Regions from separate parts of the Homo sapiens genome. Here all the other regions are linked to region 1. Evidence: fine-mapped expression QTL. A gene starts in region 1. Each other region holds a variant in brackets. All regions are shown on one strand. Distances are from middle to middle. Region 1 holds the start of MUC4 (mucin 4, cell surface associated). Region 2 has its middle 33 kb from the start of APOD. Region 3 overlaps LOC124909478 (a long non-coding RNA gene).

Region 1 (2,760 bases):
ACTCTGTTCCTCTTGCTCTGGCTCTGCCTGTCTTTCTCTCTGCGAGTAAGCCTGGGCTCTCACCATGGATCCTTCCAGACATCGCCGGGCTGCTCTCTGGCCCTCTGTTCTCTTTTCTCTCTCTTTCGAGCATTCTCCCTCTGTCTTTCCCCTCAGATCTTGTCCCGTATCTGCCAGTTCATGCCTCCTCTTCCCCACTTTTCTCCTCTTCTTATTTTTTATTTTATTTTATATTTATTTATTTATTTATTTATTTATTTATTTATTTATTTATTTTGAGACAGAGTCTCGCTCTCTCTCCCAGGCTGGAGTGCAGTGGCGCGATCTTGGCTCACTGCAACCTCCACCTCCCAGGTTCAAGTGATTCTCCTGCCTCAGACTCCTGAGTAGCTGGAATTACAGGTGGGGCCCACCACGACCGGCTAATTTTTGTATATTTAGTAGAGACGGGGTTTCACCATGTCGGCCAGGCTGGTCTCGAACTCCTGACCTCAGGTGATCTCCTGCCTTGGCCTCCGAAAGTGCTGGGATTACAGGCATGAGCCACCGCGCACGGCCTCCACTCTTCTTTCTCTCTCCCTCTTCTCTTCCTCTTCTTTCCCTCTCTGGGTCTCTCTCCACCTTCCCCCCATGTTGTCCCATTCATCTCTTTCTCCTTTCCCTCTCCCTCTTTTTCTCTCCCTTCTCTTCCTCTTCGCTGTCTCCCTTTCCCCTATTCTCTCTCTCTCTCTCTCTGTCTCCCCGGACCTCTTTCTCTGACAGCTCCCACCTCCCCCAAGTGCTCCCCGCAGCCAGCCTCATCTGCTGTCTCCATCACTTACCTGGGACCACATGCGGAAGGAGGCAGAGACACAGGCAGCTCAGGGACACCCAGGGGACCCTCCTCCAGCGTGCCCCCTTCATGGCTGCGGCAAAAGTCCCCCTGGCTCCCTGGGGAAGCTCCACGGCCCAGCAGCTGCAGTGTGAGGAGCAGACGTGAGCCCGTCCCCTCAGGCGGCTGGCCCGAACCAAGTGCGTTTCTCCGAAGGGGCCAGGGAACCTGGGAAGAGGACAAAAGAGGGCGGGGCCCCACGCTAATCACCCTTTTCTCTCCTCAGCCCCACCCCACTACCCCACCAGGAAAGAAAACACCGATACACCCGTTGCTCTGCTTCTCATCAGCCTGAGCTGAGTGGCGGGAGGGATGGGAGGAGACATGGGGGAATGGGAACAGGTCACACTGGAAATGGGTGGGCCACCCTCCTAGCCGGGTTCCTGGGTCCTCTCCTCCCTCCCCAGGGGCTGCCCCTGTCCCACCAGAGCTTTGGGCTGCTGGGAAGAATGGGGAAGAAAGGGCCCCAGAGGGAGCGACCTTGGGGCTGTATGAATGGGGGAAAGAGAGTGAGACTTAAGCAGACCCCAAGGAATTGGGAAGCGGGGAACCATGTGGGTGAGGGGCAGGAACAGAAATGCACTGTATGCCGTCTTTTGGAAAGGGGTGGTGTGCTTGGAATATCTGCTCAGTGCAGGCGCGTGGCAGACCCCAGACGCGTGGCAGACCCCAGACGCGTGGCAGACCCCAGACGCGTGGCAGAACCTCAGTGCAGATGCGTGGCAGACCCCAGACGCACGGCAGATCCCAGACACATGGCAGACCCCAGACCCATGGCAGACTCCAGACGCGTGGCAGACCCCAGACGCGTGGCAGACTCCAGACGCATGGCAGAACCTCAGTGCAGACTCGTGGCAGAACCTCAGTGCAGACGCATGGCAGACCCCAGATGCGTGGCAGACCCTCACCAGATGGTGGACTTCTTCTTTCCAGGGCAGGGAGCTGGAGCCAGGGTGCAGGGAGCCAGGGACAGTCTGGGAGACTGGCCTGAGGGAGCTGGCATGGGCAGTGGGTTGAAGGCAGAACCTCGGTAGGAGGAAGCGACTGTAACCTGTGAGGAGGTGGAGCTGCTCCTGGAGACCTGGGGGCTCTGCTCACCCCAGTTCCACCTCTTGGAACTCACAGGCACAAGCGAGGAGGGAAAGGGACCCCAAGTAGGGTTGTAAAGACGAAGAGGGCAGTTGGTGTAGCTCTCTGCAAAGGAAAACGGGGATACCTCCGCTCCCCTCTTTGCCACAGTGTGAATCTCTGCTTCTGATTCCTCAAGACTTGATTCCCGAATGTGGGGTGTCTGTGGGGTGACTCGTCCCAGAGCAGGGACCTTCGATGCTCAGACACTGTGGGGCCCAGGACAAGGACTCAGGGTTTCTGCATTCCCAAGCAGAGCCAGCCTTGTCCAGCAAGGAGTAGGCAACCGACGCTGTGGCGCTGTCTCCGAGGGTCACGGAGGCCCTGTGACCACTTGCTTCTAGAAGCTGAAAGTCTGTTCATGGCCCCAGGCCAAAGCCTGGGCCACGCCATAATAATGCGGATACCGTGGGGAAGTGGCGTGGTCCCCCAACAGTCCCTCCAGCTCTGGGTGGACGAGCTGACCCTGTTCTTTCCTGGAGGTAAGAAAATCATAAAGGTAAAGAGTCATGTGGAGCATCCTGTGGGCGCCTGGACGGGGCAGCAGGAGGGACCTACTGCAGGGAATTCGCAGACACCAAGGCCCAGCTTGGCCTTCGTGATCATTTTGCACTTTTTTTTTTTTTTGAGATGGAGTCTTGCTCTGTCGCCCAGGCTGGAGTGCAGTGGCACCATCTCAGCTCACTGCAAGCTCCGCCTCCCGGGTTCACGCCATTCCCCTGCCTCAGCCTCCCTAGTAGCTGGGACTACAGGCACCTGCC
Region 2 (2,760 bases), 200 kb before region 1:
CTTGGGAAGGGTGGATGCTGACAGGCAGGGCTTTTGTGAAAGACGGGAATGAACCCTGACCTGTCGCTAATAGGAGTTGTGCCAAACTCATCACATACATTAAAAAATAGAAAAGGATTTATTATTTTTTTTTTTTAGAGCAGTTCTATGCTCGCTCTAAACCTCGAGTGGAGAGGCCGAGTGTGGTGGCTCACACCTGTAATCCCAGCATTTTGGGAGGCTGAGATGGGTGGATCACCTGAGGTCGGGAGTTCGAGACCAGCCTGACCAACATGGAGAAACCCCGTCTCTACTAAAAATACAAAATTAGCCGGGGTGGTAGCAGGTGCCTGTAATCCCAGCTACTCGGGAGGCTGAGGCAGGAGAATTGCTTGAACCTGGGAGGTGGAGTTTGCAGTGAGCTGAGATCGCACCGTGGCGCTCTGGCCTGGGCAACAGGAGTGAAACTATGTTTCAAAAAAAAAAAGCTGCAGTGGAGAGTCTGGAGTTCCCATCCCCACCACTCACAGCCTCCCCCATCATCAGCGTCCCCCACCAGAGTGGCACATTTGTTAGGACTGAGGAACCTACTTTGACGCATCATTATCATACATTGTATTTTTAATCCTCACAACGGCCCTGCAAGATCGGCCCTGTTCTTACCACCCCCCACCTCCACTGCTTTGAGGATGAGGCCACTGTGCTTCTGGGCATCCAGTAACAACTCCTCGGAGCCAGGATCTGACTCCTCACAGGCCTGAGCACTGCACCCCGTGGCCTCCTGCCTGTGCTCACCGTGGCCTGGTCTGCGCTGCACGTGTCCCGTTAGCTCCACCTTACAGGTGCGGAAATGCAGGCTTGGAGCTGAGAGACTTGGCCAGGGTCACAGGGCAGAGAGCAGATTCTCCAACTCAGGGTCCCAAGTCCACACGCTTTCCTCTCCACCAGATTTGAAGATTGTACCAGGAGAGCCGCAGTGTTCCAGAGCTACTGAGGGGCTGGGCCGGGATTTGCTGTATTCGAGAAGACCCCCTTGGACCCGAGAGGCTGTGGGCTTGGGGAGCATGAGGAGGTTTCACAGCAGAAAGGACACCCCGGGGCTCCTGGATAAGCCAGAAAATGTGCCAGGGGAAGTCGGGCTCCAAGGGCACCACTCTGGGCTTCCAGCTGTGTGGGCTGGACCAAGAAGGCTCAGAGAAATGATCTCAGGCTTGAAGTGGGGAGAAGAAACTGTATTATGAAGGCAGATGAACAGTTCCTGCAAAAGTGAGATTTGTGTGTGCAGCTGGGCCGCACCGGACCAGGGATGAGACTGGGTGCCCGGGACTCGCCTATACTGCCTGGGGGTGCAGCCCGCACTCCTCACTATAGTCAAATCGACTATGCGTGCTTTCCAGGGGCCTGGGAGAGGACTCCATGTGGAGGGATGCTTACCTTGTGGGCTTTGGAATATAAGCCCTTTCATCTTCTCCGCTGGTCCTCACCACGTTGGCAAGGCAGGTATTGTGACCCTGTTTT[C/T]TCAGGTGAGGACATGGAGGCTGAGAGGGGTCTAGAGACTGGCCTGGCTAGTAGGAGGCTGAGTCAGGATTTGAACCAGCAGATCATCTGACCCCGGAGCCAGTCGTGGGCAGCACAGCGGGAGCTGCAACCGAGGCTCTTGACTCCTGCCTCGTCATTCCCTGAGGTCCACAGGACAACCAGTTGGGGACCTGGGGCCCCATCCTGATGCCCTGGGGAGAGGTGCTAGGCCCCTTTTGGGTCTATGGGCTACTTTTGGGCCAGTGGAGCTGGGTAAAGACCATCTCAAACCCTGTGCCAGGGGAGGTCAGACTCCAAGAGCGCCACCTTTGGGCTTCCAGCTGTGTGGGCTGGACCAAGAAGGCTCAGAGAATTAGGGGGTTCGTATTTGATCCTTTTCCTTCCAAGACTGGGATTACCAGATAAAACACAGGGCATCCAGTTACATTTGAATTTCAGGTAACAATTTTTTTAAGTGTAAGTATGTAGCCAATATTGCATGAGAAATACTCATGCTAAAAAGTTATTCGTCGTTTATCTGAAATGCAAGTTCAAATTTAACCGAGTACCCTGTATTTTTATTTGCTAAATCTAGAAACCCTCTCCAAGAGGCTCCTTGGCCCACTCACAGGGAGAGCCCGATCTCCCTCTAGACAGGGGAGGCCCCCTTTCTCAGGCCAGAAAAGATCTTGTAGTAAACTACTCAAGAGGCTGAGGCAGGAGGATCGCTTGAGCCCAGGAATTCAAGACCTGCCTGGGCAACAGAGCAAGACCCTGTCTCTAGGGAAGATATCCTACCGTAGCCTCCCTCGGGGACTCCCATTCCTCCCACCTCAGGGCCAGTCAAGGGAACAGGCCTCTGCTCTGGGCAGAAGTGCCGGCAGCCGCTCTCTGAAAAGCTAGGTGTTGCCTCAGGGGCTCCCGGTGTCCTGTGGAAAATGCCTGGCCACGGTTTCCATGGTTCCCAGGCTCCAACCCTGCAGTTCTCGGCCCTCATTCAGGAGGGGCCTCGGCAGGGTGGGGGGTGCCGTCTTTCCCTTGCCGGAGCCCCAAGGACTCTGCCGGCTCCCTCGCTTTGGCAGCAGCACTGCCCACCCTGTCTCTGGAGGTTCCCCCGCCTCAATCCACCCAGCTACCCCGAAAGGCACAATCATAGGCCTTTCTCGTCTTTTAAGGGTTTTTACTTCCATGGGGAACTATGTGTTGGATGAGAAAAGTACCCGGGGAAGGCGACAGAGGTTCAGAAAGCTCTGCGAGTCCTGG
Region 3 (2,760 bases), 220 kb after region 1:
CCTTCATGTGTTACTATTAAATGTGAACAGTGAAGAATCACCACCTAGACGAGCCTTTCACTAATGATAACACAGACTCATTCTCCTTCATGTGTTACTATTAAATGTGAACAATGAAGAATCACCATCTAGACAAGCCTTTCACTAATGATAACACAGACTCATTCTCCTTCTTCACGTGTCACTATTAAATGTGAACAGTGAAGAATCACCATCTAGACGAGCCTTTCACTAATGATAACACAGACTCATTCTCCTTCTTCACGTGTCACTATTAAATGTGAACAATGAAGAATCACCAGACATTGAAGGGAAACCCATCTCAATGGGAAAAAAGACCAAGGTAAACCAGCAGGCGGAATGATTGTTGAGAACCTAACATCATAGCAAAATAAGAAATAAGAGTTTTATATTATCATTCACTTAGTGGCACTGTCTGAGGTTTCACTATACAAATATATTGCTTTGATATGTGTGTGTATATATACATACATATATATATATATATATATATATATATTTTTTTTTTTTTCTGAGTCTCGCTTTGTTGCCCAGACTGGAGTACAGTGGTGTAATCTTGGTTCACTGCAACCAAGGTCTCCCGGGTTCAAGCGATTCTCCTGCCAATTTTCATCTTTTAAGTGGAGACAGGGTTTTGCCATGTTGGCCAGGCTGGTCTCAAACTTCTGACCTCAGGTGATCTGCCCGCCTTGACCTCCCAAAGTGCTGGGATTATAGGCATGATAGAGTTTTAACTATTAGAAGAAACCAGAGGAAGCTACCATTGGAATAGATGAAACATCAGCAATACATTAAAATATCAGCAATTTCACATGTTCGAGATTACTTTTAAAAAATAAAAAGAGAACAGAATTGATTTAGTTTCTAGGCCAGCAACCAAGGAAAAAGCAAGGAATGGAAGATTTTATAATCGCATAACAATAGCAAGATCTTACATTTCTATTGAGCTTTAAAGATTACAGGCCAGGCACGGTGGCTCACGCCTGTAATCCCAGCACTTTGGGAGGCTGAGGTGGGCGGATCACAAGGTCAGGAGTTCAAGACCAGCGACCAGCCTGGTCAATATGGTGAAACCCTGTCTCTACTAAAAATACAAAAATTAGCTGGGCGTGGTGGCGGGTGCCTGTAGTCCCAGCTAGTCGGGGGGCTGAGGTGGGAGAATCGCTTGAACCCAGGAGGCAGAGGTTGCAGTGAGCTGAGATTGTGCCATTGCACTCCAGCCTGGGTGACAGAGCAAGACTCTGTCTCCTAAATAAATACATAAATAAAAATACAAAAATTAGCAGGGCGGGGTGGCACACGCCTCTAATCCCAGCTACTCGGGAGGCCGAGACATGAGAATCTCTTGAACCTAGGAGGCAGAGGTTGCAGTGAGCCAAGATTGTACCACTGCACTCCATCCTGGGCAACAGATTGAGACGCTGTCTCAAAAAAAAAAAAAAGAAAGAAAGAAAGTAGAAAAACTTCAAATAAACCACCTAACAATGCATCTTAAAGAACTAGAAGAGCGAGCCAGGCGCGGTGGCTCATGCCTGTAATCCCAGCACTTTGGGAGGCTGAGA[C/T]GGGTGGATTGCTTGAGGTCAGGAGTTCAAGACCAGCCTGGCCAACATATTGAAACCCTGTCTCTACCAAAAATACAAAAAATTAGCTGGGTGTGGTGCCAGGCACCTGTAATCCCAGCTACTCAGGAGGCTGAGGCAGGAGAATTGCTCGAACCCAGGAGGCAGAGGTTGCAGTGAGCGGAGATGGCACCACTGCACTCCAGCCTGGGTGACAGAGTGAGAATCAGTCTCAAAAAAAAAAAAAAAAGAAAAGAAAAGAAAGAACGAGAAAAGCAAGAGCAAGTCAAACCCAAAATCAGAAGAAAACAAATAATAAAGATCAGAGCAGAAATAAATGAAATTGAAATAAAAAAAAATCAAAAAAACAAAAAAGTTTGTTTTTTGAAAAGATAAACAAAATTGACAAACCTTTAGCCAGACTAAGAAAAAAAGAAAAAAGACTCAAATAGATAAAATCAGAAATGTAAAAGGAGGCATTACAACGGATACTGCAGAGATTCAAAGGCTCACTAGAGACTTCTATGAAAACTATATGTTGCTAATAAATTGGAAAACCTAGAAGTGGATAAATTCCTAGACATATTCAACCTACTGTGATTGAACCACGAAGAAATCCAAAACCTGAACAGACCAATAACTAATAATGAAATCAAAGCCATAATCAAAAGTCTCCCAGTAAAGAAAAGCCCAGGACCTGAAGGCTTCACTGCTGAATTTTACCAAATATTTAAATAACTAATACCAATCCTGTTCAAACTATTCCAAAAAATAGAGGAGGAGGGGATACTTCCAAACTCATCCTACAAGGTTAATATTACCTTGATACCAAACCAGACAAAGGCACATTTTAAAAAAGAACAAAAGAAAAAAAACTTCAGGCCAATATCTTTGATGAACATTTATGCAAAAATCCACAACAAAATACTAGCAAACCTAATTCAGCAACATATTAATAATATCATTCATCACGACCAAGTGGGATTGATACCAGGGATGCAAGGTAGGTTCCACATATGCAAATCAATCAATGTGATACATCATATCAACAGAATGAAGGACAGAAATCATATGATGATTTTAATTGATGCCGAAAAAGTATTTGATAAAGTTCAACATCCCTTCATGATAAAAACCCTCAAAAAACTGTGTATAGGAGGAACATACCACAACACAATAA

The links. PIP is the estimated chance that this variant, and not a neighbour inherited with it, causes the effect.
Region 2: its variant is the best candidate, but not a certain one, in a credible set for the expression of MUC4 in sun-exposed skin (GTEx, PIP 0.79).
Region 3: its variant is the best candidate, but not a certain one, in a credible set for the expression of MUC4 in ovary (GTEx, PIP 0.76).

What each region holds. Positions count from the first base shown.
Region 1 is chr3:195,810,915-195,813,674 of GRCh38, forward strand. MUC4 (mucin 4, cell surface associated) reads right to left here and starts at 1,015. Exons shown (of 25, transcript NM_018406.7): 1 at 822-1,015. The coding sequence starts at 903.
Region 2 is chr3:195,615,523-195,618,282 of GRCh38, forward strand. No RefSeq gene overlaps it. Among named protein-coding and RNA genes, the nearest start is that of APOD, 33 kb to the left of the region's middle. The variant C/T (reference allele first, on the strand shown) is at 1,498.
Region 3 is chr3:196,027,915-196,030,674 of GRCh38, forward strand. The region is part of intron 1 of LOC124909478 (a long non-coding RNA gene); the gene reads right to left. Among named protein-coding and RNA genes, the nearest start is that of TFRC, 53 kb to the right of the region's middle. The variant C/T (reference allele first, on the strand shown) is at 1,584.